4 separate regions of the Homo sapiens genome follow, and all the other regions are reported to be linked to region 3. Evidence: microRNA targets listed by miRTarBase, many of them from high-throughput screens and not tested one by one. Region 3 holds a microRNA gene; each other region holds the end of a gene's coding sequence.
What was found. Region 3 holds the annotated microRNA hsa-miR-5186 (AGAGAUUGGUAGAAAUCAGGU, at 3,656-3,676, shown strand). A microRNA usually pairs through its seed, bases 2 to 8, with sites in the 3' UTR of a target mRNA and lowers its output. Matches are read on the target gene's strand: a 7mer-m8 pairs with bases 2 to 8, a 7mer-A1 pairs with bases 2 to 7 and ends in A, and an 8mer does both.

Region 1 (8,143 bases), not on the chromosome of region 3:
CGTCCAATAATCAAGACTCCATTATTGCTTGAAGCCCCACCCATATCATCACTGCCTCTCCCTATCTGGTTTCTATTTGCTGTGCCATCAGTCTGGCCCTTCCCTTTCCTACCCCTGCCCCATTCTGGGATCATTAGGAAAGCTCTGCCCTTGTCATCATAGCCCAGTCCATGTCACCCAGCCCCTCTTCTACCTTTGACCCTGTCCCTTCTTGTCCCCACAGGCTCCTGCCACCGGCGCAGGATGGCTTCGAGGTGTTGGGTGCAGCAGAGCTAGAGGCTGTGCGTGAGGCCTTTGAGACCGGCGGCCTTGAGGCTGCGCTGTCGTGGGTGCGCTCAGGCCTGGAGCGCCTGGGCAGCGCACGGCTAGACCTGGCCGTGGCTGGCAAGGCTGACGTGGGCCTTGTGGTGGACATGCTGCTTGGATTGGATCCTGGCGACCCAGGCGCTGCGCCTGCTTCGGTCCCCACAGCACCCACTCCCTTCCCAGCCCCAGAGCGCCCGAATGTGGTGCTCTGGACCGTGCCTCTGGGCCACACGGGCACTGCCACCACCGCGGCCGCCGCCTCTCACCCAACGCACTACGACGCCCTCATCCTCGTCACCCCTGGGGCCCCCACTGAGAAGGACTGGGCCCAGGTCCAGGCCTTGCTGCTACCAGATGCGCCTCTTGTCTGCGTGCGCACAGACGGCGAGGGCGAGGATCCGGAGTGTCTGGGAGAAGGCAAGATGGAGAATCCCAAGGGCGAGAGCTTAAAGAACGCAGGTGGAGGGGGATTGGAGAATGCACTCAGTAAGGGAAGGGAGAAATGTAGCGCTGGATCGCAGAAAGCAGGCAGCGGGGAAGGTCCTGGGAAAGCTGGCAGCGAGGGTTTGCAGCAGGTTGTCGGCATGAAGAAATCAGGTGGTGGCGACTCAGAGCGGGCCGCTGCGTTAAGCCCGGAGGACGAGACGTGGGAGGTGCTGGAGGAGGCGCCGCCGCCAGTGTTCCCCCTACGGCCTGGCGGACTCCCAGGGCTATGCGAATGGCTGCGGCGAGCGCTCCCCCCAGCCCAGGCAGGGGCACTGCTGCTGGCGTTGCCACCAGCATCTCCCAGCGCTGCCCGAACCAAGGCTGCGGCGTTGCGAGCCGGGGCGTGGAGGCCAGCTCTGCTGGCTAGTCTGGCGGCGGCGGCGGCACCACTCCCAGGGCTGGGCTGGGCATGCGACGTGGCACTTCTGCGGGGTCAGCTGGCGGAGTGGCGACGGGGCCTGGGGCTGGAACCCACGGCACTGGCTCGACGTGAGCGTGCCCTGGGCCTGGCTTCTGGAGAGCTGGCAGCGCGCGCTCATTTCCCAGGCCCGGTGACGCGCGCCGAGGTGGAAGCAAGACTGGGCGCCTGGGCGGGCGAGGGCACTGCTGGGGGCGCAGCACTGGGGGCTCTCTCCTTCCTGTGGCCTGCGGGTGGTGCAGCGGCGACAGGTGGCCTGGGCTACCGAGCGGCTCACGGCGTCCTGCTGCAGGCTCTCGATGAGATGCGGGCTGATGCTGAGGCTGTGCTGGCACCCCCTGAGCCTGCCCAGTGAGGAGTGGGAGGGGGCTTGGGAGTCCAGACTCTGACAGGGGATGCCTGGGCTTAATCCTGGGTGCTTGAAGGGGATGTGGACTCTTGACTTCCAGCTGGGATGTGTGACTTCTTATCACCTGGATTCAGAGAGTCTGGGGGACAGGAATCCTGATTTTTTTTTTTTTTTTTCTTTTTTTTGTGAGACGAAGTCTCTTGTTGCCCAGGCTGGAGTGCAATGGCGCGACCTCGGCTCACTGCAACCTCCGCCTCCCGGGTTCAAGCGATTCTCCTGCCTCAGCGTCCGGAGTAGCTGGGATTACAGGTGCCTGCCACCACACCTGGCTAATTTTTGTATTTTTAGTAGAGACGGGGTTTCACCATGTTGGCCAGGCTGGCCTCGAACTCCTGACCTCAGGCGATCGACCCGCTCCGGCCTCCCAAAGTGCTAGGATTACAGGCGTGAGCCACCGCCCCTGGCCAGGAATCCTGATACCTTTGGGAACCATGGTGAATGACATCTAGACCCTTCTGTCCTGAAGGGAGTTGGTGGCCCAGACTCTAGCAGGGACTATGTCTTTGTCTCCTAGGGAGTAGAAACTGGAGTTACTGGATGTTTAGTCCTCCAGGGAGGCTGGTAGAAGTCCTGTTTCCTAATTGGTGGGGAGGTGTCCATGACTGGGACCTGAACTCCAGTATAGGGGAGGGAGACCTGAGCGCCCCAGGGAGCTGGAACTCTTGGGCTTCAGAGCCTCAGAGGGAAACAGGGTCTACATTTCTCTGGGAGAAAAAGCCTGCACACAGGTCCCCAAGGAGCAGTGGGCTTTGAATCTTGATGGGGTGGCGGAGGCCCCTGGGGTCTGAGACTTCCGGGGTTCTAAGATGGCTGTGGACCTTGGTTCCTAAATATTGGGTAAGGGGAGGTCTGCATCTGGAGGAGGGATCGGGGGCTTGTGCGAGAAAGCTGGAGACTTCTTGATCTCTCCTGGGGAGTGGATGGGTTTCTATAATTGCCCTCCAAAAGCATGTAGGGAGGGTGGTCCCACAAAAATGAGGTGAGGTGGGTAAGAGGTCTGGGCATGGTGGGCTCTGGGAGTAGCCAGGGACCAGGAATGAGGTCTTTTGGGTGTGGAAGGGCAGTAAAGCATACCTCAGAGACAGCTCCTCCAAACCTTGTATTGGGATCCCGGCAACTGCCTCTGTGAGTGTGACTGGGAAGGGATATGACTGCCTTCATCTTCTAGGTGCTGAGCAATTCAGGTGATCTCTGGGGAGTCTGTTTCTCTGTCTCTTTTCTTTAGGAGTTTCTATCTTTTTTTGGCCTTTTTCTCCTGGTATTTAACCATAACCCTTTATGGCCTTGGTGTTTTGTGCACCTTCCTTTTCAGAAGAGCAGCTGTACTGCTGCACTGGTCCAAACACTTCTGTATGGACACCTCGGGTATCCCCAAGAGGCTCTGCTTTCTGATGTACATAGAGGGTGCTGCATTGAGCCAGGGGCCCACCAAATGGGTGGTCAGGCACTTGAGACCATGGGAATATGCCAGGAGTGAATGAAGCAAAGGCAGAAACCACAGTGCCTGGAATGTTCTAGGCTGCTAGCCACATGTGGGGGAAAAGTTGCAGGTTACAGAATTCTTCAGTGTCAAAAACAGAAAAGGAGGATCTGAGAATCCAAGCGATAGAATCCCTTTTGTCGTAGACAGAAAGAGCAAAGTCCAGAGAGGGCAGGCTTGAGGCCCAACAGCACACAGTAAGGCCCTGTGGGTCTGGCCCTTGCCTATTCTCATTCACTGCCCCTTCCCACTCCTGTCCAGCCTGATAGACTTTCCTTCTTTTTTTTTTTGAAATGGAGTCTCACCTTGTCACCCAGTCTGGAGTACAGGGATGTGATGACTGTAGCTGAGATGACAGGCATGTGCCACCACACCTGGCTAATTTTTGTAGTTTAGTAGAGAAGGGATTTCACCCTGTTGGTCAGGCTGGTCTCGAACTCCTGACCTCAGGTGATCCACCCGACTCAGACTCCCAAAGTGCTGGGATTACAGGTGTGAGCCATCATGGCCGCCTGACTCTTTCTGATGCCTGAGTGGCTACCTTGAGTCCTGCCTGGGGACCCATGCACCTGCTGTTCTCTTTCCTTCAAGGCTCTACTCACAACTTCCTGTTCTACTCTCAAACCTTCCTGTGACGGGCTCAGTCAGATCTCAGCTCACGTATCCCCTCAGAGAGGACTTCCCCTCCCTGACCACCCTATCTGAAGTAGCTCACATTCCCCCACTATTCATTTCGGCCAGTTGAGTTTCCTTGTAGCAATTATTACTGTCAAAAATGATCTTATTTATTTACCTGTTTATTGGCTTTTGACCCGTTGCCTGTCCTGTTCTCTGTTGTTTCCCCAGCATCTAGAACAATAGGTGCCTGACACAATAGGTGCTTCGTAAATATTTATTATTATTATTATTATTTTAGAGACAGGGTCTTGCTCTGTTGCCCCGGCTGGAATACAGTGGGATGATCATGGCTCACTGCCATCTCCAACTCCTGGGCTCAAACGATCCTCCCACCTCCGCCTACAGAGTAGCTGGGACTATAGGTACACAGCACCAAATTTTCTGTAGAGACGGGGGTCTTGCTTTGTAGCCCACACTAGTGTTGAACTCCTGGCCTCAAGTGATCCTCCTGCCTTGATGGGATTACAGGTGTGAGCCACCACACCCAGCCTAAATGTTTATTTCATTGGTCAGTGTCAGAACTAGGATTGGAATTTAGATTGTTAATCTCTTGCCACAAGATAGGAAAATGGAGCAAGATGAGGAGAAAAAAGCATTTAATGGGAGAGAACACCCTTGTCTGAGGTCAGGGACCTGGGAAGCAAGCACGACTTTGCCACTGTCACTGTGTGTTACTTGGACAGTGCCTTATTTTCCCATCTGTGAAATAAAAGAGCTGGATAAGAACCTTAGTTTTGAGATCCTGTCTCCCTTAAAAGCTGAAGACAAAGGTAACTGATCCAAGGGCAGACAAGGGATGGTACCATCATCTCCAGCTTGGACTCCCACTGCTGACAAAATTTGTCCCTTCAAAGTTGAGATAGCTACCATGGGGAAGAGCACTTAGTTCTATACTGAATGGCTCCAGGCATTTTCATGAAAGCTCTTTCAGCTTTGGGGAAGAATATTCATCCATATCTTTACCCCATCATATTAGTGTCTAAGCCCTGCAATCAGGCATGTCAGCCACGTGATGGAATGGGAGGGCTGCAGGGCAGCACTGTCCAGTAGAAACGAAATGCAAGCCACATATGTCATTTTAAGTTTTCTTTTTTTGAGATGGAGTTTCACTCCATCACCCAGGCTGGAGTGCAGTGGCACGATCTCGCCTCACTGCAACCTCCGCCTCCCAGGTTCATGTGATTCTCCTGCCTCAGCCTCCTGAGTAGCTGGGATTACAGGCATATGCCACCATGCCTGGCTAATTTTTGTATTTTTAGTAGAGATGGGGTTTCACCATGTTGATCAGGCTGGTCTGGAACTACTGACCTCAGGCCACCCGCCTTGGCCTCCCAAAGTGCTGGGATTACAGGCATGAGCCACCGCGCCCAGCTAATTTTTGTATTTTTATTTTATTTATTTATTTATTTTTTGGGAGACGGAGTCTTGCTCTGTCACCCAGGCTGGAGTGCAGTTGTGCGATCTTGGCTCACTGCAACCTCAGCCTCCCAAGTAGCTGGGATTACAGGCATGCACCATCATGCCCAGCTAATTTTTGTATTTTTAGTAGAGATGGGGTTTCACTGTGTTGGCCAGGCTGGTCTTGAACTCCTGACCTCAGGTGATCCACCGGCCTCAGCCTCCCAAAGTGCTGGGATTATAGGCGTGAGCCACTGCACCCGTCCTAATTTTTGTATTTTTAGTAGAGATGGGGTTTCACCATGTTGGCTAAGCTGGTCTGGAACTCATGGCCTCAAGTTATCTGCCCACCTCAGCCTCCCAAAGTGCTGAGTAAGCCAAGTTTTCTAATAGCCACATTAGACAAGTAAAAGGAAACAGGTTAAATTCATTTTAACATGTTTTACTTAACCCAATGTATCCAAAATAGCATTTCAACATGTCATCGGTTTTTTAGTTTTTTTTTTTTTTGAGATAGTGCTTCGCTTTGTTGCCCAGGCTGGAGTGCAGTGGCACAATCTCGGCTCACTGCAACCTCCACCTTCCAGGTTCAAGTGATTCTCCTGCCTCAGCCTCCCGAGTAGCTGGGATTACAGGCACCCGCCACCATGCCCACTAATTTTTGTATTTTTGGTTAGAGATGGGGTTTCGCCATGTTGGCCAGGCTAGTCTCAAACTCCTGACCTCAGGTGATCCACCCACCTCGGCCTCCCAAAGTGCTAGGATTACAGGCGTGAGGCACCGTGCCTGGCGTCATCGGTATTATTTAAATGAATTATGTTACGTTCTTTTGTGCTGTCTTCAAAATCTGTTATATATTTTACACTTACACCAAATCTCAATTACCATGGTACATTTTTATCTGAAATGCTTGACCTTTATTTTGATTTCATAAAATTCATAGTTGGAGAAGTAGATTCACATATCCAAGTTGTTCCAATTATATAATAGTTTTCCAAAAACTGAGATGGGTGTCCATTTTTTTTTTAAGTAAAGATGCAGGTCTGGTTATGTTGACCAAGTTGCTGGGTTGTTTTGTTTTGTTTTGAGACAGAGTCTCACTTTGTCACCCAGGCTGGAGTGCAGTGGCATGACCTCAGCTCACTGCAACCTCTGCCTCCCAGGTTCAACTGATTCTCTTGCATCATCCTCCTGAGTAGCTGGGACTACAGGTGTATGCCACCATGCCTGGCTAATTTTGGTATTTTTCTCAGAGACGGGGTTTCACCATGTTGGGCATGCTGGTCTTGAACTGCTGACCTCAGGTGATCCGCCCACCTCGGCCTCCCAAAGTGCTGGTATTACAGGCATGGGCCACCACACCTGGCCTCAGCTGTTCAATTAAAAGTAAATACAACTTAAAATTCTATGTTTCATTGGCAGTAGTGCAACATTAATACTGAGTAGCCACATGTGATTAGTGGCTATGGTATTGGACAGGGAAGGTACAGAATACTTCCATCAACATAGAAAATTCTATCAGTCTAGCTCTAGGGGCAGATAGTCCTTCCACTGACTTGGGCAAGTCACTCTACAAATGGCATCTACCTCACATGGTTATGGTGAGAATTCAGCGTATGTATGTACATGCAGGCACACAATATGCACACAGACACATAACATAGTACACCCTTTCCTGAAAAGCCTGACACATGGAGCTCAAACATGAGTGCCACCCACCCCTGGGCAGCACCAAGATGGCTCTAGTCTGGGTGCCTTTGTCTCACCCCCATGCCTTTGCTCGGAGTGTGCTCCTCATTTTTCTGCCACTTTGACCCTGTCTCTGATTTGGTCCTGTCTGACATCACTGCTATATGCTTTGCTCCTCTCAATTTCCTCTGCCCTCATGCCAGCAGGAGTCATGCCAGAGATCATATCTGAGAAAGCAAGACAATTTTGTGTGTGTGTCTGTGCCCATAGAGGAGTGCTGGTTGTGTTGATATAGTTGTAGATTGGTTGTGTTTACACAGTTGTATATATTGACACCCTTGAGTGTTATGACTTCTTTTGGGGGTGGTCGCCTTTTAAATCATAACTTTTAATGGGATTCCATTTTAGTCTTTGTGAAGACATAAGGTTGTTGGCAGGCATCTGTCCCTGGGAGCATCCAAGCAGAAAAGACTAAGACTCCCTTGTAGACAGATCACTGGCCGCCACTGAAGTGTGTCTGCATGGCACCACAGGGCTGGAAGACCCTTGAAGGCAGGAATTCAAGGAAATGTATGATGAATTTTGGCATTGCCATCAAAAGCAGAACAGGCATGGAAAACTTGGGTGAGTGGGCGAGACAACCTCCTCACCACAGCAGAGTTCCATCCATGCCTGGATAATGATGGAGGGATTTGTGTCCACTGCAGTGGGGAACCATGAAGGACACATCAAGGGTGTGGTTGGCCTGTGGTGCTCTTTGGAGGAATGAATAAAAATGAATAGAAATCCTATTGCGTGTCTGTTCTTTTGGAGTTTGAGGGAAAAGAAAGATCCTTGAGATTTTGACTGGGCTGGAAACCTAGACTCCAGCGTCTGGGGATAGGAGGGATGGTGGGGAATCCGCTGGGAAAAACTGGGCTGTGATCAAGAGAATTTATCAGTATCTGAGTTTTTCCACCCTGGAAGGAGTGCGGGCAGACTTACTGTTTAAACATTGGGAGCTTATGATGGTAAAGCGCCTTAGTTCTGGAGCCAGGTATACCCATTAATGACCCCAACTGGGCCAGCCTTTCTGTAGCCATGCCCTTGGATTGTTGCTCTCCTTCTAGGTTTGACTATGTGGTTTGCTTCAGCCACTAGAACAATAGCAAACATGATACAAGCAGAGGCTTGGAAAGTGCTTATGCGGCCGGGTGTGGTGGCTCACACCTATAATCCCAGCACTTTGGGAGGCCAGGGCGGGCAGATCACAAGGTCAGGAGATCGAGACCATCCTGGC
Region 2 (7,982 bases), not on the chromosome of region 3:
TGCCTCAGCCTCCCAAGTAGCTGGGATTACAGGCACCTGCCACCACGCCCATCTAATTTTTTGTATTTTTAGTAGAGATGAGGTTTCACCATGTTGGCCAGCCCGGCCTCGAACTCCTGACCTCAGGTGATCCACCCACCTTGGCTTCCCAGTGTTGGGATTACAGCTGTGAGCCAACATGCCCGGCCATCACAGGCTATTTTTTAATACCCACCCTAAAATAGGCTATGGAGCCATAGTTGAAGTCTTGCTTTGTTCCACTGTGTATCTGAAGGAGTTAGATAGAAGCATCCCTTCTAATTCTGAAATTGAGGGAAATCTTGTTGTCTATGTGTGTATCAACCTCTCTTTTTATTAAGATTTTGAAATATGTTGGTATCACAGATATAAAACATTCTCATGTTCTTTAAAGAGAATTCACTTTTATGCTAGAAATGATGGAAAGGGCTTGGTCCATGACACTTTGCTGAGTTATTTTGCTTCATCTGCATATTACTTTGGGAAGAAGATACAACATGGTAAAATAACAGTTTTGAAGAAGAAAAAAATAATAATGACTGTTCTAATAACAAGTCAAGTTTTTCTTTTGTTTGGTTGGTTTCAGTCTTTTCATGGGTTTAAAAATATAATGCAGACTTAATGTCTTTTTTTCCTTCATCAGGAGAAAATCCTAATTCCAGTTGTACCTTTCCCCCTTTTCTTCAGGCCATCCAGTGAAGAGAGAGAGACTGAAATATCTCTGAAGGATTCTACACTAGATAACTAGGTTGACATACCTGGAATATAGAGAACACTTGAGAAGTTTGTAATGGTTTTCATTTGAAATAGACTGCTGAAAGTTTTAAATTTTTATAAGCATAGGTTTGATGTTGAAAACTTGTTTTGAGGGAGAAAATCCCTTTGTTTTAAAGTAAAGTAAACATTATCGCTAAGTGTACTTGTGCAGTATTAACAGCTACATTATACAGTAAATGTGGGATAAAATCCATTTAGAAAATGTTAAACTGCTTTTCCAGACATGGTTGTAGCATATTTTCAATTAGTGTGTGTATGTTAATGTGTAATTGATAGTAGAACAAAGTTACATTTTTAAAACTGCTACTTGTATAAACCTTGCCTCTTTTCCCAAATACTGTGGGTTTTGTGCATAGTTTTTACAAACCTTGGATTTACCAGACTGTCTTTTCACTGTTTGTGGGTTTTGTAGAAGTTACACATTTTTATGGTAGATAAAATGTTACTTCTATACAAGTACTCACTCCCTTTTTATCAAAAGTTAATTTTAATCTCACAGTCTACATTGTGCTACATTATCCAGCTTCTTTGGAACAATGTGTGCTCTGTATGGTTTTTTTTGGTATGACAACTAATTAAGCAACTGACATGGAACTGAGAATTCTACAAACTATAAAACATTAATTTTTGAAGGTAATTTAGTTTTGTGGCTGGGCATTCAGTGAAGTCTTAGGACTTCTTTGCAGACAACTGACTGGGTATATATAGGAATGAATCTGGCTTTAGGGTTAAATCATTTAAGGTCCTTTTATAGGCAGGCACTAGTAACTAAAACTGAAAACTAAGTAAGTTTATTTTTGAGGAATGTTGTTAAAAATGTCTTTAGGAAGTCACTAAAACTTAATTGGAAGAAAAAATCATGATGCTTATACAATAAATATGAATAAATGTTATATAAGGAAACTCACCTATTTGAAATCATGGCTATATTGTTTTTATTTTCTAGATTCCAAAAATACAAACACTAGTTGTTCCAGCATTGTACTTTGATAAGTCTGTACATTGACGTGTATGGACTAAATCCAGGGTAAAATCAATGTTACAAAATTTAAGGGTATGTTAACTAAAGGATAGCATTTCTAAGATATTTTGAATATTAGGGTCATTTGGCACTTCTCAGCAAGTAGGATACTTCTCATGTTTTGAAATTATATGAATATGGAAAAAAATGGCTTAAGACCAGCGTCTCTGTATGACATTGTGTGGTTGACCCTCTGAGATAACTGTTTTCATCTACAGAATTGCATTTTTGCTTTTAAAGAGGTCTTATAATGGAACTAGGAATCACCGTTTTGAGAGAACCTGCATATATACCAGTCATTATCTGTTTGGTCCTTATACAGTTTTAACTTACTTAGATTTATTCTAGTTAAGCCATAAGTTCAACGTGTAAACTTGTTTTCATTAAAGAATTTTTCTATCAAACTCTGCTAGTAAATTACTTTCTTGCTATTTACAAGAGTAAGTGATGGAATTCTGGGTTTGCTGCCAAGGAAATAATTTCTTAGTTAACTGGTCACAGAGGTTGTGCTGTTTTGGGAAACGGGGTAACTAAACAGTAAGCTCAAGATGATAAAAAATAAAGGTAATATTTATCTTTTGTTCACCCTCCCTTTCTTCCCATGACCCACCAGATCTATAGTTTTACAAAGAAGCCACAGAATATTCCAATTCTAGAGATAGAGCATCATTCTCATAATTTATGTCAGCTTGTACAGGCTGACCTTGCTCTAACTAGTTGATGTATGTTCGCTTCAAGCATAATTGCTGTTTCTTTAATCATAACTCTCAAGAAATGGTGTCATAGGCTGATTTACAGATAACTTCTCAGAACTCTTGATAATTATTCATAAGACTTAAGAACTTTCAGGATCATTGAAATTGTTCATTGGCTCAATTTGTGTGTGTGGTCAAAACTCCACAGCTTGACAAGGCACCAAAAGGTAATTTTGAGATAGATAACCCCCACCCCACCCCACCCCACCCCACCCCACCCCTCCAAAAAGTACGTGTAATATGTATGTTTTAACACCTCTTTTGGGCTGGTATGTGTGTGTATGTACGTATGTGTTTTGATTACTGGATAAAAGAGTCATACATCAGCCGGGCGCAGTGGCACGTGCCTGTAATCCCAGCTCCTCGGGAGGCTGAGGCAGGAGAATTGCTTGAACCCGGGAGGCAGAGGTTGCAGTGAGCTGAGATTGCCCCACTGCACTCCAGCCTGGGAGACAGAGCAAGACTCCATCTCAAAAAAAAAAAAAAAAAAAAAAAAAAAGAGTCATACCATGACCAAGCAGAACTGACCATTGAAGGTTTTCTTAGCTGCTTGGAGAAATTGCAGATACATCTATCTGAATCTGAGAACTGACTGGGATTTGGTATGTGAACAACTGGAGAGAACCATACACTTTATAATTAATATTATATCCAGTGATTTCAAATAATATGATAGATTTTGCTGATACAGTACTGCTGTCTGTGTTCCTACTCATACACTTACCTGGTTACAGATGTTAGGTCAAGATGAGGTCTGCATCTAATCCTGTATAAGAGCAGAGATTTTTCATAGGGTGCTGTGAGGGCTTTGCTAACTCTATTTTGTCCGATTGGCCAGAAAAAGGATGCTCTAATGGAAATAGCAAACCTGTATCATTAAACTCTTTAGAAACAAAGAAACTGGTTTAATAGGCAGAAATGTGTTTATGTTTGTGTCGTGTAATTCTGCAACACAATGTTAGAGATGACTGACCTTTCTCCTAGTAAAACTAGAATGTCTAATTGTCCTTAAATGGTACTGATGCCTGAAGAATGTTTAAAGAAATAGCTATTGCTTCTCTAGTAACTTCTGTGCATGTGTATCCACTATTATATAAAAGTCAAATTCAACTACCAAGCAGGTTGACATGTTCATGACAACATTTTCAGTTGCCTATCTTCATTAGCTAATGTGTTACATGTAATTTGACAGGCGTGTTACATTTGATTGAAATAAGCATAAAGAAAAGCTGCCTCGAAAAAAGAGAAAAGCTGTCTTAAATCAGGGGTTTTATAGCTCCAGAAATATACAAAGTTAGGAATTTCTTTTGACTTGAACTTGGTGGGATACCTGTATAACTGATACATAACACACGGGCAAACTGTGGGAGTAACCTGGTTGATTAACTTTTCTCCTCAGTTTCACCAGGGAACAATAATAGGTACCTGAGTCTTTGATGAAAAACTTAACCTTAAGAACTAGCAAAATAACATTCTCAAATAATTAATAAAGAATCCCAGTAGCAGAAATGTTTTAACTGGCATGTTTCTTCTTTGTCCGCTAAAATGTATTGACACCACACATGGAATAATGCATTATGACAATAATTAACTTTTTGAAGTTTGGTGTTTTGAGAGTATGAAATGAATGAATAAGATAAAATATCCTTGCATATGCATGTAAGACCTATAAGGAACGCAGTATTGAAAATAAAGGAATCAAAATTTTTACCCATGGAATTTTAGGGTTGGGTAAATCATTCATTTATCTTAAATCTATGGTTTGCTGGCAGTTATCAATCTGCTCAATTTTAGCATTGTTGTATACAAGAAAGTAAAAATTTAGGTATAACATAAGCCAGCCTCTTAAGTTCTCTATACTGATTATCTGTGTACTGACTGAATCAGTGAATGAGAACACTAGACATACCAGAAACTCGTGCTTGTCATCTCCAAGCCAATGGACTTAACTGTTTGTGGCATTTAAGTCCATAAAACATACTTCACTGTCAAACACATAGGCTTATAGGTTTCGTCAGTTTTCCATGTGTAAGATAAATGTCTGTTCTTAGCCATCCAGATATTCAGTCAAATTTAAATACAACCTAGGAGAGAGAAAGTGGAATTTATTTATTTTAAATGATGCATTTGAAATCTATAGTATTCCTAAAAGTCTTCTAAACAGTATTAAATGTTCTACCCATAAAGGTTCCCAGAAAATATTTGAATAAATCTATCTGATGGTCTAGACCTGAAAATAAAGAAAGTTTATTTTGCTGGGCGCTGTGGTTCATGCCTGTAATCGCAGCACTCTGGGAGGCCAAGGCGGATGGATCACTTGAGGTCAGGAGTTCGAGACTATTCTGCGCAACATAGTGAAACCCTGTATCTACAAGAAATAAAAAAATTAGCCCGCCATGGTGGCCTGTGCCACCATGTCTCAGCTACTCGGTAGGCTGAGGTGGGAGGATCACCTGAGCCTAGGGAGGTCAGGGCTCCAGTGAGCCAAGATCACGCCACTGTACTCCAGCCTGGGTGACACAGTAAGACCCTATGTCAAAAAATAAGTTTAAAAAGTTTTGGTTTTTTTTTTTTTCCTCAGAATAAGATGAGAGTAACTAGAATTACTATAGTAAGGGGACCAGAAGAATGGAAGACCTGGGCCAGGAAAACTTATTTTTTTTCTTTTTGCTTATATAATTTTGGTATATATCCAATAGTATCATTACCGGAGAATAAGTGAGCCAGAGCTAGCAATCAATAGGATCTTGATTTTTCCATGTCCCCACAGTCATACGAAATCTGCTATTGTTTTTTAAATCATAGTATTAAATTGACATATTTTAAACTCATAACATTCATAAAGCTTTTGTCAAGAAATAAAGCTTCAAGTTAATGTTATTTCTGGAGTTATGAGTATATACTCAAGATCTTTTTAAATTCATTATTCACATAGTCTTATTAACATGTCTTGTATGCCTAGTTTCCTCCAAAACAAAACCTAACATTACTAAACAGCACACTAAGATTAAATTCCCCCAAAGCAGCCGGGCGCGGTGGCTCACGCCTGTGATCCCAAAATTTTGGGAGGCTTAGGCGGGTGGATCGCCTGAGGTTAGGAGTTTGAGACCAGCCTGGCCAACATGGTGAAACCCCGTCTCTACTAAAAATACAAAAATTAGCCAGGCATGGTGCCAGGTGCCTGCAATCCCAGCTACTCAGGAGGCTGTGGCAGGAGAATCACTTGAATCCGGGAGGCGGAGGCTGCAGTGAGCTGAGATTGCGCCACTGTATTCCAGCCTGGGCAACAAGAGCGAGATTTTGTCTCAAAAAATAAATAATCCCAAAGCTATTAATTTTGTCTTATTTGTAAATAATTCATTCTCCCTAGTTTCCATTACAGTTATTTGAAGGATCTTTACCTTGGAAGCCTCATGGTAGAAGGTGTAGCTCTCACATTCTTCAAAGAATTTTCAAAACACTTCCACTACTTGATGTATCATTAATAATTCTATCTTTAGCAAAAAACTCTGGACAGAGAATGAATAGGGAAGGCATGGATTGGGAGAAAGAATATGTGTGTCTGACAAAGGATTTAAAGTCAGAATATATAAAGTACTACAACTCAACTCAAAATGGGTAAAAAGCACTAAATTAAATACTATCTGGAATAAATATAAAATTAAACTATGTTATAAACATTTAAATACTATCATTATAAGAAAATCTGTCATTTGGACTTTTTTTTGATAGCTTTAGCGGACTGTTCAAAGTGGATCCTGTTCCTCAGTGGCGTTTCTTAGAAATAAGGTAACCATCCAAGAGAACAGTTATTTCATGAGGGGGTATTTTTGTGAGTGTAGCTATTCTTAATTAAAGGTTCCAGGATCAACATAAGGATAAGCAAGGAATTCCCCCAGTTTGTTGCCTTCTGAATCATAGTGCAGCATTCGGAAGCAAACATCACAAAAGAAGCATGGGTCCTCTGGTGCAAAACTGTCATTGTTCGTCACCCATCTGTAGTTTTTAAAAAAAGAAGTACATCATTACAATCAAATTTGCCATACTTAACATGCTTTATGACCTGTAGCAATATGTAAATATAACATTCTATTTCCTTATCAGTCTGTTATTAATGCATAATAATCCCTTAATTTTGTATACATAGATACAAATACATCACCACCAATACTCTCTCTACAAAGCGAAAGGGCATCTAACATTAAGAAACACTGCAGAATGCTGTTTCTCTGTAATACTTACCCTTAAAGGAAGAATATAAATCTATTTGAAAGCATCACACATTTGCCACGACATACCTATCCTCCAAGTACGAATATAGTCATTTTCTTCTAACAGACCATCTTGAAAAACCATGGCAAAATTAGATGCTACAAATCTGATAGACTTTTGCTTAATATACCTTCTTAACTGATAAATGAGTACTGGTTAATTTGAAAACTATATAACTCTTTTTACCTAGAACTCAAGATTATGTTATAAAGTATATACAAATAGCAATATGGGCAACATTATTCAACCAAAATGTTGAATGGCATGAAGATGCTATTGTATGGTATGTTTGAATTCTGCATCTCATGGAATGTTTGCTTTTAACATTATTTTCACTTTGATTTATCATGTTTTCCTATTGATCTTTCAGAAAAGAATATTGTGGTGGGGTGGCGAAAACAAACTGAAGATACAAGTTGAGTATCCTTTATCTGAAATGCTTGGGATCAAAAAGAAGTATTTCAAATTGCAGATTTTTTTCAGATTTTTAAATATATTATGCATATATTTGCCGGTTGAACATCCCACTGAGAATTTGAAATCCAAAATGCTCCAATGATCATTTGAGCATCAGATGTTGCCACTCAAACACTTTCAGGTTTTGGATTTCTGATCTTGAAATTTGGAATGCTCAACCTGTACTAAATTTCCTTTCCTCTGAGTGGCTTTCAGATTTTTTTTATATGTTTTTTATAGTTACTGCTGTGTTGTCCAGGCTGGTCTCCAGGCCTCAAGCGATCCTCCCACCTCAGCCTCCAAAAGCAACAAATTTTTTTTTTACTGACCCACAGTAAGAAATGCCTTATAATCTAAACATGTAGAATCACATAAAGTAAAAATTTTATAAAACTATATTTTAACTTCATGTGATGTACTGTGGTTTTATTGATGAAGTTTTATTGATGAAGCTGATTATGTAAACTATGTGGACAAGAGGCAGAAAGAACATGGCTCTCGAGCATTTTGGATTAAACAAGGTTTTCTTTGGTTAGACTTCCCAAATCCCTTTATGGTAATGTGCACTGTGACCCTCTAACAGGGAGTTATTGTACAGAGCTTTTCTTGAATGTATTCTATCAGAGAATTCTTTGCTTTGCTTAACACTAGTGACTTTTATTTTTATTCACCTAGCTGTATAC
Region 3 (7,964 bases):
GTCCCTGAAAGCCAAGGCATTGCAATACCCCTACTTAAATGGTGTGACAGATTATCTCAGCACTTAGCATCACTTTTGCCCCTTTTACACTCTTTTCTGGTATCATGGGGCAGGAAGCCTGGGAACTACATTTCCTACAATCCCACCCCATCAGTTATAGTAGAGATAACAAATGAGAGGCACACAAGTGATATTCAAAAGATGGAAAGGCCGGGCACAGTGGCTCATGCCTGTAATTCTGGCACTATAGAAGGCTGAGGTGGGTGGATCTCTTAAGATCAGGGGTTCAAGACCAGCCTGGCCAACATGGCGACACCCCGTCTCTACTAAAACTACAAAACTTTGCCGGATGTGGTAGCGCATACCTGTAATCCCAGCTACTAGGGAGGCTGAGGCAGGAGAATTGCTTGAATCCAGTGGATGGAGGTTGCAGTGAGTCAAGATCTTGCCACTGCCCTCCAGCCTGCACAACAGAGCAAGATTCGGTCTCAAATTAAATACAGGTGGAAAGGAGGCAGAATGTATTGTTGCAATAGAAATGCTGGTGGCAGACTAGCAGCAGTTGCTAGGTTCGGCTACCTCAGACTTCATACTCCTCCGTTATTCTTCTTTTCGGGGGCTGTGCAATGACTGTGACGTCAACAGTAGCATTCTGCACTTTGCTGTAATCTATTGATTCCCTATATTAAGTTTCTTTCTGCTGGAAATATTTAACATAGTTTGGTTTCATGACTACACACTCTGACAAATACACCTGAGAACAGTCATAAGGGTGTCTTACCTAGTAAATGGAGCTTCAGCAGCCCATTCTTCCTTTACCAGAAAAGAGACAATCCAGTGTCTGGAAGTCAAAATTGCTAGGATACACTTTTTCTATTGCATGGGAGGGTTGGAGGGTAGTGTTGCTATACTAAAACTAAATCCTCCCCCACCATGATGTTCAAAGACTAAAGGGAGGTGGATATTTCTGACAGACATGCTATGTGCTTGAATGTCAGCTTATTACACACAGGGGTGAAGCAGGGTTTTATAAAGAAAGAGAACTCTGTGTGAGCCGTCCCTAGGGAGATATTATAAATCAAATCGTGATTCAGGCATTTCTGTGTCCTCAAGCCAAACACTATCTAGTAGTGTCCCAGACCCCATTTAAAGTCCTAACAAGAGAATTGTAATACCGATAATTAAATTCTGAAAGAAATGAGGTCATTGTTTTGTTGTCATAATAAAAGGATTTTGGTTTGCACAGTGTCTGGAGGAGGCACGTGTCCATGTGTTTTCAAGCTTTGTCCAGTAAAACAGTGTGCCTGTGACAATTAGTACTGACTTTTTACCAAACATATGCTTAGAAATAAGGATAATTTATTATAATAATCATAAATACAGGATTAAAGAGGAAAAAGTACTTTTTTTGTTCTATTGTATATGTTCTGTGGCAGTAGACTAGACAGCTAATAATTTAGACATCTGAGAGGACCACCTACCAGAACAGAGGGTCTTTACTCTTCTGACAAATAAACTAGTAGGTACCCAAAGATTGAGGCCCAGAAGAAAACAGAGAGAGAGGCTTTGTTTTAAAATGTACTGGGGTTTGTTTTGATCACTTATAGTAAGACGTGAGCCTGACAATGACTGTCATGAAGGAAGAAGGTGTTTGCACTCACAGTTCCCTAGAAATAGGAGGCACAGCAATGCAGGGAAGTCGCTTGTGGAAGCCAGGCAGGGGGCACAGGGGAAAAGCAGGGGTCAGCGCCTTTACTGCAGTTTTGTGGAAAGGAATGGGCAAGGCAGGAAAATAGGCTAAGCAGGTTTAGAATTGTCTTGTTGAATCATTTCAGCAGGCTCTGGGGTGTAGGAGCTGTTTGGAATTGTCTAGCACCTCGCCCTGGGCTGATTAGGGCAAGAAACTATTGGCCTGGAGTGGAAGGGTCCCACAGAGGTAGGGGGCTAGTTACAGTAGGCTTTGAATTGCTTAGTTTGCATATAAAAGAGACCCTCCCAGGTAACACTGTTTGATATCTGCAGGAATTAACTAATGCTGGGAGAGGCCATCCCTCCAGATCTGTGAGGCCCAAGATGCCAGAGCATCAGGAATACAGAAAATAAGAAAATAAAGTTCAAGTAGGTTTACAGTGAAAGTTTTTCTTGTTAGTTCCCAACTATACACCCTAGCACGAGTCCCAGAATTTCTACAGTCCTGGTTTACAGATGATACTCTCAGCAGAGGCAGAGTGACTAGGCTTCTCAATTTATTCATATGGATAATAAAGTGGCTCAAATAAAATGAATATTTATTATAAGGCCATAAAGCCATTTCACAAAAAATGAAGCAGAGGTGAATCTCCCAGGAATAGGAGCTGAGATCCAGGGAACCACTGAAGATAGAAGTTTCTCTCTCTTTGTCTCAACTGCATATAATCTTCCTCATCTATGATCATTGGCTACTGTCCACAGACAGGATCAAAATGCCCAGGGCCCAAGTCTACAGACCCATTTACTTCATAGGCCCACATCCATTTGACTAGAGACTCTGTGTCTCAGAAAATACATTTGCCTACAGGCTAGCCAACAGATTGACAGCCACCTGGATAGGTGTTGGTCCCTGGTCCAATCAGGGAAAAGGCTATGACATTAGACGAACTTGAACAGAGAGACTCATCTCTTCAGCAAGGGTGAGCATGGAGCTGACAGTGCTGTAGATAGGCCAGGCAGGCACCCTGAAACTACACCACCTCTGTTAGCTAAGAAATATAATTCTTCTTGACATTGAAGAAATTGCTAAAAATTGTGACAGGACTTGTGGCTGTTAACCTATTCAGAGGGAAAGATGGTAGTACCGAATGCTGCTCACTAAATATTCCCAGCTCTCTGCCCTCCGGCACATAGCACTCTATGGCTCCCAGTGGTTGGTGGAGGCCATGTAACTATTCTGGCCAATGAACTGAAAGCACAAACAATGTATGCCACTTTCCTGTTGAATGTTTATCTCTTGGCATGATTTCCTCTGAGCTCTCTTTGTCCCTGCCATGGTAGCATCCTCCTGATAGCGACTATTCTATCAGCCTGGGACCCAAAGCAGGGACAACACATGGGTTGTCAGAAGAACAAGAAGTCAACTTCCTTGTTAGCCACTGAGATTTGGAGTTTGTTATAGCATAACACAACCAATGCCAACTGGTTTAATAAATCCAAAAAGTTGTACTTATTAAGTAGAACCCAACAAATGCTATTAACTTTAATCATCCCTCAGTTCTGGGGAGAGCAGAGGAGACCTTATGCACTATCTTTTCTACTATTCATCTCAAATCTTTCCTAATCTATCATTTGTGGGGTAGGGTTTCACTTCCCTGCTTCCTAATTCATAAACTATCATGTTTATCATTATTTGGTCAGATTTCTGATTTTCTAGCTGATACCTCCCATTCTAATCCAAATTTGCTTTCTCCCCTCTGCCAGGGAGTTCTCATGACATGTAGCTAGGGCCTCACTTTGTGGCAATTTTATAAGCCTCTCATTAAACATTGGCACTGCCTCAGTTGCTTTCTGCACTGATTCTCCCAGGACTGGACCCCTGCCTACTCCCCAACTCAGCCAGCTTATGACTTGACCCTCTCACCTGATTTCTACCAACCTTTCCTCAGCTGATTTCTTTCTGGGGAGAGATTGGTAGAAATCAGGTGAGAGGGTCATGCCATAAGCTGGCTAACACTTTCATGCATTAATTAATACAGGAATCATAGCTATCATCTTAATCTATCACTCTCGTATCTATCTGATACTATGCATTAACGTTCTCAAAAGGCAAATTCCAACTAGAACAGTGTTTCTCAAATACCAATCAGTGGGCCAGAAGCAACAGAATTAGCTCAGTAACTCACTAGAACTCCAGGGTAGGTGCTTTAGTAGGTCTAAAAATATAAAGCAGAACATTTCTATGTTTGTTTGTTTTTATAACTTCCCCCAGGTGAGTCTGATGCACAAAAAAGTTTTGAACCCCTGGAACAGATCATTCTGTAGCTGCTTGAACTTCATAATTTGAACTATTTACCTCAACCTGGAGGCAGGCCTGGCTTTCTTGATCCCTTGTTTCAATTTTGACAATGTTCACCTTCTGCTCTGGCCAGGAGCTCCCAGGATGCCAGTAAACCAGACCTTACCACTCACCTCTGTATATAATGGCATCTCAAATTCCTTATTCACTTTTTGTACTTCTGGGTTACAAACATACTGGTGATTTTATATTATGATTTTTACAAATGGGTGAAATATGGTTTCTGGGCCTATAAAGTCAAGCACTAGATTCTAGATTCAAGGTCTCTCTACCAATTTGCCAAACCCCAGTGAAGTACTGCTTAAAGTTCTCAACTGGTCTTACCTCCTAACAATTGATAATTCACACAGCAATTGTCAAACCATCATATGAATTAACCAGTAAATCCCATTCTCTGCCAGTACTAGAGAGTTCTTTCAGAGTTTTTAGAGAGAAAGTATAGCATAATATAAGCCACAGATTCCAGAACCAGATTGCCTGACTGAAGTCCTAACTGCGCTGTTTATTAGCTGGTGATCTTGCACAAGTTACTTAGCTTGCCTCTGTCTCAGTTTTCTACTTCCTAGGCTTGTTACAAGAGTTAAAGGGACTGATACCTATAAGAAATCTTGTGCTTAGTATGTATTCAATGAACATTTAACCATTACCATGATTCTTACTTTTTAGTTATAGGCTATTTATTTACAACCACTTGTATATGAAACTTTCAACTGCACGCTTACCTTTGGGTACCTCTTGTAATTGATTCACCGGTAACTCACATGTCATTATGCTCTCTCATGCTAAAGCTCAGTCAGTAAGTAAATTGTTTCTTGGCCTCTAAGGACATGCATACCTCATTCAACTGCCGTAACCCAAATGCATGCAGATATCAAGCAAAGCAAACTGGTAAAAACTATGGCCAACTGGGGAACACAAACTTCATCTAAAAGGTCAGCCACTTCTCAGTCCAGCCTAATATTTCCATGCCTGAATGCAAACCCAATGCTTCCTTCTGTCTTTTCAAAAAGAAGCCAGAAATTTAGACTTTCATGGTCAATTTCCCAATTTGTAAATGTTGTCAAAGAAAAAAAGAAAGAAAGGAGGAAACAAAGAGAGGAAGGAAGGAAGGAAGGAAGGAAATAAATTCTTAAACGTCATGCTGGCCAAAACATATATGTAAGCCAATTTGATCCAAAGCTGCCAATTGGCTCCCTGTGCAATTAAAAAAAAAGTCAAATATAAAATTGAATGTGTGTACTGATGCAAAAAAGGAGTATGAAACCCGATAATATCAGCTTGGTCAAATTAAATATGCATGTAATGCCCTAAAAATATGTATTTAATACATTGTTTATTAGAACTAACATAAAGAAATTAGAAAAAATATAGCTATTTATGTTTTACTCCTAAAGCCAATGCAAGGTTTGTGGTAAAACCTGATGATGATCATCTTCTATGAAACAGAATATTCTTTTCACACTCATAACAGGAAGCGAGCAAAGATGTGTTTAGGAACATAAATGCTGGATCCAGACTGCCTGAATTTAGATCTTAGTTCTGCCTCTTGCTGGGTGAATACCCTCTGATGTCTTCATTTGGATTGCTTCCCCAACCTGTCTGTGCCTCAGTTTCCTCACCTGTGAAATGGATATAAGAACAGCACTTACCTCATAGGTAGTTCTCTGACAATTCAATGACTTAATTATTATAAAGCATTTAAAACAGTGCCTAGCATATAGTAAGCCCTATATAAATATTTGTTAAATAAATTATGGCTTTTGTTCAACCAAAATTTTACTTCCTAAATACTTATAAAATATCATAAGGCAGGCTAATATTTTTTTTAAACGCTGCAAATTCAACTACAGGAAACCAAATTCTCTCCAGTGCTTTAAACTAGAGCTAAATGTCCAAGTGAATATTACTGTTGTTGGTGACAACTCTCCAGCACTTGGATATAATTCTAACAGAAGGAAAAAATGCAAGTTGTTGTCAGGGACAATTGAGTATCTGATGGCTTGATGGCTTCTGAGGTCTCTTTTATATATCCATAAACGTGTTATTTGTCTTACTTGGCAGTGAAGCTCATGGAAAACTGAACTCTCTCCCTAGAGTCCTTAGCTTTTTATTAGATTCAGGATTTCCTGAAGCCCATTCACATACCTCAAATTAAGAAGGCCCAAGTTAGGACATTTTATTATTTTGTTATTCTAGTTAGTTGATGCCTAAAGTGTAGGCAGGATGCCCTGGGACATGAGGTGCAGAGGTACGGGCCTTAGCAAGCAGTACCAGGTAGGAGAAATGGGAAGAAAGTCACTCTCACGGTCAAGGCTGTTTATTCCCTCTCCTAGAGGGCCGCAGGGTGAGAAGATATATGGCAGACACACCTGAGAGCATTAACTCAAGCATACCCTATGAATGACCTACCGTCTAAGAAAAATGTGTGTTAGGAGTTCTGAGCTAAGGAATCCGGGAGTGGCCAACCCAGAGATTCACTCCTTCTCTATGAAGAACATATGAATCCCTGGCCCATCCCTTAGAATGCAGGTCATGCAGAGGATTGAGGCCCTATGTTTTGGGTTAAATGGAGTTTGCTAGGTGGAGGTTGCTAGGTGGAGGGGGTTAAATGAACATTTTTATATAAACTCCATGATCTTTACAAGTGGTAGCACTTTTCCTGTCCATCCGACCACTCCCTGACTGCCCTGTATGTACGTCCTTGATAAAGTCTATATCTTATTCACTTGGGTCTCTTCTTTGGGCTCTTGGACATGGTGCATTGGTGCCTTCCCTACTGGAGTCAATAGGGGTCTGGCACCACAGTAGAGCACTTCTGTAGAATTAAGAAGCTTGAGGCTCTAGTCTGGACATTGGTACTAACAAGTTGTGTAATCCTGGCCAAGTACCTTCCACTCTTGGAGGAAGTACCTTTAGAAGGTACTTCCTTAAAATGAGGTGGTTTGACCAGGTGATCTTTAAGATGCTTTGAACAGTATGTGTCATCTTTATACTAGAGTAAAACTGTTACCGGAAAGGGGTCCCAATCCAGAACCCAAGAGAGGGTTCTTGGATCTTGTGCAAGAAAGAATTTGAGGTGAATCCATAGGGTTAAGTGAAAGCAAGTTTATTAGGAAAGTGAAGGAATAAAGAATGGCTACTCCATAGGCAGAGCAGCTCCGAGGGCTGCTGGTTTCCCATTTTTATGGTTATTTCTTGATGACATGCTAAACAAGGGGTGGATTATTAATATTCCCCTTTTTTAGACCATATATGGTAACTTCCTGACATTGCTGTGGCATTTGTAAACTGTCAGGCACTGGCGGGACTGCAGCAGTGAGGAAGACCAGAGGTCACTCTCATTCCCACCTTGGCTTTGGTGGGTTTGGGCTGGCTTTTTTACTGCAAACCTGTTTTATCAGCAAGGTCTTTATGACTTGTATCTTGTGCTAACTTCCTATCTCTGTGACTAAGAATGCCTTATCCTCCTGGGAATGCAGCCCAGTAGGGCTCAGCCTTATTGTACTCAGCCCCTTTTCAAGATGGAGTTGCTCTGGTTCAAACGCCTCTGATAAAAGAAAAAGATAAGTCTTGAAAGTATGTGTTTGGACCAGAAGAACGTCAAGGCTATACACATGGGTTACATTTTCAATGATTTATTTGTGTAATTTAAATAAGAAATATTGCAGCATGCTTCACTATTTAAACAGCACAAAAGATTGTATAATAAGGAAAAAATTATTTCTCCTCCTCTGCCTTCCACATACTTTGGTTCTGCTTCCCCAGGTTACCAGAGATATGTATACCTCTCCCCACTCCCCTTCCTATTTTTAAACTACAAATGGTAACAGATGTATATATTATTTTGCTTCTTGTTTCTTTCTTTATCAGGATATCTTAGAGGACGTTCCATGTCAGTACATATGCATCTTGTTTA
Region 4 (8,143 bases), not on the chromosome of region 3:
GATCTCCTGACCTCGTGATCCACCCGCCTCAGCCTCCCAAAGTGGTAGCTCTGTTTTTATTTTCTTGAGGAAACTCCATACTTTTCTCCATAGTAGCTGTACTACTTTACATTCCCACCAACAGCATATGAGGGTTCTCTTTTCTCCACATCCTCACCAGCACTTGTTATTGCATGTCCTTTGGATAAAAGCCATTTTATTTTTATTTTATTATTATTATTATTTTTGGGACAGAGTTTCACTCTTGTTGCCTGGGCTGGAGTGCAATGGTGCGATTTCGGCTCACTGCAACCTCCACCTCCTGGGTTCAAGCAATTCTACTGCCTCAGCCTCCCGAGTAGCTGGGATTACAGGCACCCGCCACCACACCCGGCTAATTTTGTATTTTTAGTAGAGATTGGGGTTTCTCCATGTTGGTCAGGCTGGTCTCGAACTCCTGACCTCAGGTGATCCACCTGCCTCGGCCTCCCAAAGTGCTGGGATTACAGGCATAAGCCACTGGGCCCAGCTTCCTAAAACCCCTTTTTAACTGGGGTGAGATGATATCTCATTGTAGTTTTGATTTGCATTTCTCTGAGGATCAGTGATGTTGAGCACCTTTTCACATATCTGTTGGCCATTTGTATGTCTTCTTTTGAGAAATGTCTATTCAGATCTTTTGCCCATTTAAAAAATCAGATTAGATTTTCTTCCTGTTGTTTGAGCTCCTTGTATATTATTAATCCCTTGTCAGATGGATAGTTTGCAAATTTTTTTCCCATGCTGTGGGTTGTCCCTTCACTTTGTTGATTGTTTCCTTTGCTGTGCTCCAGAAGCTTTTTAACTTGATGTGATCCCATTTATCCATTTCTGCTTTCATTACCTGGGATGTTGGGGTATTTATTACTCAAGAAATCTTTGTCCAGACCAATATCCTGGTCTTTAATCTTTTTTTTTTTTCTTCCCTGGCTGGAATGCAATGGCGCGATCTTGGCTCACTGCAACTTCCGCCTCCCAGGTTCAAGTGATTCTCCTGCCTCAGCCTCCAAGTTGCTGGGATTACAGGCTCGCACCGCCATGCCTGGCTAATGTTTTTCATATTTTATTTTTTGAGACGGAGTCTTGCTCTGTCGCCAGGCTGGAGTGCAGTGGTGTGATCTCGGCTTACTGCAACCTCCACCTCCTGGGTTCAAGTGATTCTCCTGCCTTAGCCTCCAAAGTAGCTGGGACTACAGGCGCGTGCCACCATGCCCAGCTAATTTTTGTATTTTTAGTAGAGATGGGGTTTCACCATGTTGGCCAGGATGGTCTCGATCTCTTGAACTCGTGATCCACCCGCCTCGACCTCCCAAAGTGCTGGGATTACAGGCGTGAGCCACCGTGCCCCGCCGTTTTGTTTTGTTTTTTTTTTGAGACAGTCTTGCTCTGTTGCCCAAGCTGGAGTGCAGTGGCATGATCTTGGCTCACTGCAGCCTCTGTCTTCCAAGTTCAAGCGATCCTCCCGCCTCAGCTTCCAGAGTTTCTGGGATTACAGGCACATGCCACCACACCCAGCTAATTTTTGTATTTTAGTAGAGACGGGGTTTCTCCATGTTGGCCAGGCTGGTCTCAAACTCCAGACTTCAGCTGATCCACCTGCCTCTGCCTCCCAAAGTGCTGGGATTATAGGCATGAGCCACAATGCCTGGCCTCATTTTGATTTGATTTTTGTATATGGTGAGATGTAGGGGTTTAGTTTCAGTCTGCATGTGGATATTGTTCTCCCAGCACCATCTACTGAAGAGACTATCGTTTCCCCAATGTATGTTCTTGGCACCTTTGTTGAAAATGAGTTCACTGTAGATGTACGGATGTATTTCCAGGTTCTCTATTCTGTTCCATCGGTTGATGTGTCTGTTTTTATGCCAGTACCATGCAGTTTTGGTTACTATAGCTCAGCAGTATAATTTGAAGTCAGGTAATGTGATTTCTCCAGTTTTGTTCTTTTTGCTTAGGATGGCTTTGGATATTCTGGGTCTTTTGTGGCTATTTTAGGGCTATTTTTTCTATTTCTGTGAATAATGTCATTGGTATTTTTATAGGGATTGCATTGAACCTGTGGTTTATTTCTGTAGTTTACACTTAAAAGTAAGATGACAGAATGTCTACACAGAATCCTCACAGATATAAAGTATAGATATTGCCCATCACATTTTCAGTTGAATGAAAATGGGATGGAAATAGGAATAGAAAATCTATTTTCTATAAAGTAGGAATAGAAAATCATAGCCTGTACTAGAGACCATGGAGAAATTAAGGGTCCAATGAAGGGAGGTAATATACACAGTTTTAACACATTTCACCAAGGCAATAAGTCATTTCTCTTATAACACACAAACAAGAGTAGGGCTAAAAATAGGAAGAAGAAAACAAAATCTCAAAAACTGGCTGTTCTGTAAAAAATGAGTAAAATATGGTTAAAAAAAAAAAGTGCTGCCCAATACCCACTCTCACCAGGTCTGTGGTCTGCATATGCAATAAGAAAATAAGATGGCCCAGGCGCAGTGGCTCATGCCTATAATCCCAGCACTTTGGGAGGCCAAGGCGGGCGGATCACAAGTTCAAGAGATCGAGACCATCCTGGCCAACATGGTGAAACCCTGTCTCTACTAAAAATACAAAAATTAGCTGGGCGTGGTGGTGTGCACCTGTAGTCCCAGCTACTCAGGAGGCTGAGGCAGGAGAATCACTTGAACCCAGGAGGCAGAGGTTGCAGTGAGCCAAGATCGCGCCACGGCACTCCGGCCTGGCGACAGAGGGAGACTCCGTCTCAAATAAAATAAAATAAAATAGATATAAAAAATATTGTGAGATAGGTATGTCACCTTTATCTGCAGATTATATAACTATAGAGCCCAAAAGAATCTATCACCTTATAAGCAGAACTCTAATAAATTTTCAGGTATTACTAGCATATTTTAAGTATTGTGAGACATCACAGTAGATGGTGTTATTATTAGATATTAGAGAGTCAAGAGGATGAAGAGTTATAAAAGAAACCTCAAGATGTGTTAATGAATTCCATTCAGTGTCAATTGTTTATTCATGTAGGATACTCTGCATTTAAACTGAATGAAATTCAAAATATAATCCTAATGGGGTTTTCATTGGAAAATAAATGAGTCAAAAATTCTCATGAAGAAACATCTTTATTTCCAAATAATAAACTATATATTAATAATATATACATACATCTTTATTTCCAAGTAATAAAAGCTATTGAAAAGTGTCAAGGATTGCTAGAATATGGAGAACAGAAATAGATGTGAGCATTTAATATACAACTGATAGTATTTTAATTCAGTAGGAGAAAGGTGAATAATAGTTACTTCTGGCATAACTGGTTTTATTCCTGGATAGAAACAAGTCTGACATCCTGCATTAGATCGTATAATCAATTCCTGATGTATTAAAATATTAAATCTCTGTGTATACACACTCACAGAATCACATATATGAAAAACTGCACTCCACTCCTTTATTCTCTTGCCCTCTGAAATCTTCCAGAAGCAAAACCTTCCTAGGAAACATAGAAAACACTGGAAATGACGCCGGGTGCGGTGGCTCATGCCTATAATGCCAGCACTTTGGGAGGCCGAGGAGGGTGGATCACCTGAGGTCAGGAGTTCGAGACCAGCCTGACCAACATGGAAAAATGCCGTCTCTACTAAAAATACAAAATTTTCCAGGCGTAGTGGCATATACCTGTAACCCCAGCTACTTGGGAGGCTGAGGCAGGAGAATCTCTTGAACCCGGGAGGCGGAGATTGCAGTAAGCCAAGATTGCGCCATTGCACTCCAGCCTGGGAAACAAGAGTGAAACTCTGTCTCAAAACAAAACAAAGCAAAAACACTGGAAATGACTTGGGAAGCTTATTTTATAGAAATAAAACAGACAAGAATACAAAGTGTTTGTTGCAGCATTACTTTTAGATGGCAAAAAAGCGCAAACAATCCATAATATCACAATTGGGAAAGTGGTTGAAAAGGCATTGGTAAATAACACTGTGGAACATACTGTAACCATCAGAAAGACTGTTAGATCATCATCTATTGAAGGAAAATCCAAAATGTACAGTTGAATGTAAAAAAGCAAATTTCAGGGAAATGTATAGTTATCCATTTTTCTGTAAAAACATAATAAAATAATTGTGTGTTAATGTTTTAGCATGAAGAAATATATGGGTAATATACACAACCTTTAAATATTATTCAGAAGAAAATTGACAGAGGGGAGGGAATGAGGAACGGAGAAGGGCAAAGATAATCATTTTTTCTTTCTTTTTTTTTTTTTTTTTTGAGACAGATTTTTTGAGACTCTGTCATGCAGGCTGGAGTGCAGTCAGGATCTCAGCTCACTGCAACCTCCGCCTCCCGGGTTCAAGCGATTCTCCTGCCTCAGCCTTCCGAGCAGCTGGGACTACAGGCACATGCCACCACGCCCAGCTAATTTTTGTATTTTTAGTAGAGATGGGGTTTCACTATATTGGCCAGGCTGCCCCCTGCCTTGGCCTCCCAAAGCACTGGGATTACAGGCGTAAGCCACTGTGCCCAGCCCCTTTTCTTTCTCTTTAATGGTATTGTTTCATTAATTTGGGTGCAAATGCACTATCTCTATAATTTTAGATGAAGAACTTTATAAAAGACATAAGCACACAAGAAAAGAAAGTAAACAAAATCTCATTTGGCAGTTTTCATTTTGATAACGCAAAACATTACAACAGTCCATTTTTAGTAATTCTCTCATTTGCAGGTATTTTTGCTCACTCTACTTTTCTCAAATTTATTATGAAATATTTTACTTCCTTATGCCAGTAAAGTAAAGTAACACAATGTTCAGAGAGACCCGTCTACACAGGATCTAAGAAAAAAGGAAGTGGGGCATAAAATAACAGTTCTACAGACATAAACTTCATCCTTCCACATATGCGATCTGTCCAGCGTGGGGAGCTGCTTGCTGAGCATGTTTTGAGCACAGGGAAGGCCCATTTCAAAACACTAACTTAACCCCAAACAAAGCTACACTGTGGACTTTTTTTTTTTTTTTTTAATAGTCTCATTCTGTCGCTCAGGCTGAAGTGCCATGGCGTGATCTTGGCTCACTGCAACCTCCACCTCCTGCATTCAAGTGATTCTCCTGCCTCAGCCTCCCCAGTAGCTGGGATTACAGGCATGTGCCACCATGCCTGGCTAAGTTTTGTATTTTTGAGTAAAAATGGGGTTTCAACATGTTGGCCAGGCTGGTCTCAAGCTCCTGGCCTCAAATGATCCTTCCATCTCAGCCTCCCAAAGTGCTGGGATTACAGGCGTGAGCCAAGATGTGTACTTCTATATAACTGAAATAGTTCCTTGAACATTTGATAAAGTTTTCCTTAGAAAGAAACTGGATTTGGTGCTTCATTAGTAATAGTTAACTGATCACATGCTAATTTTTCCCTGTTCTCTGTGTTTATGAGAGTCTTTGAAGAGTCCTAATTTTCTTGGAGTCAATATTGATGTATATTTTCCTTAAAAACCATTTTGTTTAAATTTTCAAACATATTAGAAAAAAGCATAATATTCAACAGAACCTTTTAAATCTGTAACTATGTTTCTATCTCTGTCCATTTTTTAAATATGATGCTGTTTCTCTTTTCATACTTTTTTTCCTCATTAGTGCACCAATATTTTGCTTATGTTCTCTTTTCTTTTTTACTGGGTATATAATGCGACAAAAAGAGTATTAGTCGGAATAAAGTCCTTCACACACATTATTCACAGTACTTTCCCCCCCAACACCTAGGATTATTTCATGTTCAATAGTAAGTACATGATGATGGGAAATTTTCTTAACTTGTTACCTTCAAAGGGTCTTTCTTCAGTCAAACACCCTGCCTAATGGTGACTAAGTTCTGCAGAAGTTAAAAAGCCTTTCTACAAATAATAATACTGATGATGATGAATATAATAACGATGACTAACATTCAGTGAGTATGTATTTATCATGTCAGGCACAATTCTAAGCACTTTATCGATCTTAATTCATTTAATCCTCACAAAGCATTATGAGGTAGGTATTATAATTATCCCCCATTTTATAATTTTTACTGAGACACGCATGTATATATGAACAGAAAAATGATCAGCAATAAATAATGAACTGATAAAGACTATCCTTTGGGATATGGTCAAAGGGTACATTTGCCTTTTTGTAATGTTTGCATCTTTTATAAGGAAAATATATTCACACATTACTTCTGCAATTAAAAGATATGATACAAAGATGTGCTTAGGGAGAATGTCCAGCAGGGACTTGTATTTTGGCATGTATTATGGCAAAATATCTAGAGGAGACTACGATATCCACCAATAGGATTTCATAAGTGATATTACAGTAACACAACAAAACACCATGAAGATAATGAAGAATCTCTATTGAGTAAAATGTCGTTCATGAACATTTTTACAATAAGAAAGCCTTAATGTTATAAAGAACAAAAAGAATAAGCCATCTTCAAAAATAAAGAGGTCACTTCTCCCAGGTACTAAAGGTATTTTTAAAATAGTATACAAATCAGGATGTAAACAGATGAAATTTATAGCCATATAAATTTAATATGGATTAAAATACTAAGAATGTAACAATTAGAGAAATTAGGGGAAAAAATGACAATCACAGGACTACATTTCTACAAAAATTCTCTGACGTTAAGAAGGTTAGAAAGGTGTTAAAAGTGCTGTCATTTTCAGTATGACAGACTGAATTATCTATCATATTGCTAGACTGAATTATCTGATGTCAAGAGAAGTAAGCGTTTAGTTAAGGGCTTCCAAAGTATATTCTATTCATAGAGTATTTCTCCAACATTATTTTTCCCAGGCTGAATAAGCTGTAGTCCACAAATAAAATGTTTCTACATTATTCTATCTAGAGGAATTATTAACAAGATAAATTCTGTTTTGAGCCATAATTAAAAGCCTCCCTACACATTTCATATATTCTGTTTCATCACCAGTACAAATTTTGATGCTGAATAAGTTGTGGGTCATAATTAAAGTTCTTTCCACATTCCCTATATTCATAGGGTTTCTCACTAGTATGAATTCTATGATGACTAATAAGCTGTGAACTCTGAGAATAAGCCTTCCCACATATCTTACATTCATAGGGTTTCTCCCCAGTATGAATTCTCTGATGTCTAGTAAGGTCTGAGCCAGAACGAAAAGCCTTTTCACATTCCTTACATTCGTAAGGTTTCTCACCTGTATGGATTCTTTGATGTTTAATAAGTTGTGAGCTCTGACTAAAGGCATTGCCACATTCCTTACATTCATAGGGTTTTTCCCCAGTATGAATTCTCTGATGTTGAGTAAAGTTTGAGCCACTACTAAAGGCCTTCCCGCATTCTTTGCATTCATAAGGCTTCTCACCTGTGTGAATTCTCTGATGTCGAGTGAAGTTTGAACCACTACTAAAGGCTTTCCCACATTCCTTACATTCATAGGGTTTCTCACCAGTGTGAATTCTGTGATGTCGAGTAAGGTCTGAGCCACAAATAAAGGTTTTTCCACATTCCTTACATTCAAAGGGTTTCTTGCCAGTATGAATTTTCTGATGATGAGTGAGTCTTGAGGGATGTCTAAAGGACTTTCCACATTCCTTACATTCATAAGGCTTCTCAATGGTATGAATTATCTCATGTGTAGCAAACTGTGAGCCATGTCTAAAGGTTTTCCTATATTCTTTAGATGCACAGAATTTCTTTTTACTGTTAATGATTTGCTGTAATGTGAAGGATGGATGGTGACTCAAAGTGGGCAGATCTTCATGAGTGAATACCAATTGATTGAAATGTCCCCCCTGAGAGCCGAGTTCTTTCTTAAACTGCCGATTACATTCCCAATCATCTCTGAAACTGGAGCACTGAAAATCACGTCTTGTGAGTTTTTCCATTATTTCCCACTGGGTTGATTCTATTTCATAAATTTCTTTCTTCAGAAATAATTTCTTGGTCTCACATCTTGATTCCAGGACTGAAAGAAAATATGAAAGTAATCACTCACATTTTTCTTGTTTGGGAGAAACAAAACTTCAATCAATATGGGAGAATTTAACCGAATTTTTTTTACAAATGGATGAGGAAAA

Region 1: miRTarBase lists IRGQ as a target of hsa-miR-5186. Seed matches in the 3' UTR shown: 7mer-m8 at 5,730-5,736 and 7mer-A1 at 6,049-6,055.
Region 2: the mRNA of SNAPC3 is a reported target of hsa-miR-5186. Seed matches in the 3' UTR shown: 8mer at 5,826-5,833.
Region 4: miRTarBase lists ZNF566 as a target of hsa-miR-5186. Seed matches in the 3' UTR shown: 7mer-m8 at 3,782-3,788.

Annotation. Positions count from the first base shown.
Region 1 is chr19:43,585,448-43,593,590 of GRCh38, reverse strand. It overlaps IRGQ (immunity related GTPase Q), which reads left to right. Exons shown (of 3, transcript NM_001007561.3): 3 at 224-8,143. The coding sequence ends at 1,565. Among named protein-coding and RNA genes, the nearest start is that of IRGQ, 6.6 kb to the left of the region's middle. RefSeq lists an enhancer at 3,768-3,857.
Region 2 is chr9:15,458,304-15,466,285 of GRCh38, reverse strand. SNAPC3 (small nuclear RNA activating complex polypeptide 3) reads right to left here. Exons shown (of 9, transcript NM_001039697.2): 9 at 4,660-6,567. The coding sequence ends at 6,420. It overlaps PSIP1 (PC4 and SRSF1 interacting protein 1), which reads left to right. Exons shown (of 16, transcript NM_033222.5): 16 at 706-2,220. The coding sequence ends at 766. Among named protein-coding and RNA genes, the nearest start is that of SNAPC3, 39 kb to the right of the region's middle.
Region 3 is chr3:151,561,616-151,569,579 of GRCh38, reverse strand. MIR5186 (microRNA 5186) reads left to right here and starts at 3,585; the gene lies at 3,585-3,704. The region is part of intron 1 of LINC02066 (long intergenic non-protein coding RNA 2066); the gene reads right to left. It also overlaps a transcript of IGSF10 not described here.
Region 4 is chr19:36,441,971-36,450,113 of GRCh38, forward strand. It overlaps ZNF566 (zinc finger protein 566), which reads right to left. Exons shown (of 5, transcript NM_001145344.1): 5 at 3,149-8,031. The coding sequence ends at 7,007. Among named protein-coding and RNA genes, the nearest start is that of ZFP82, 27 kb to the left of the region's middle. RefSeq lists an enhancer at 7,081-8,143.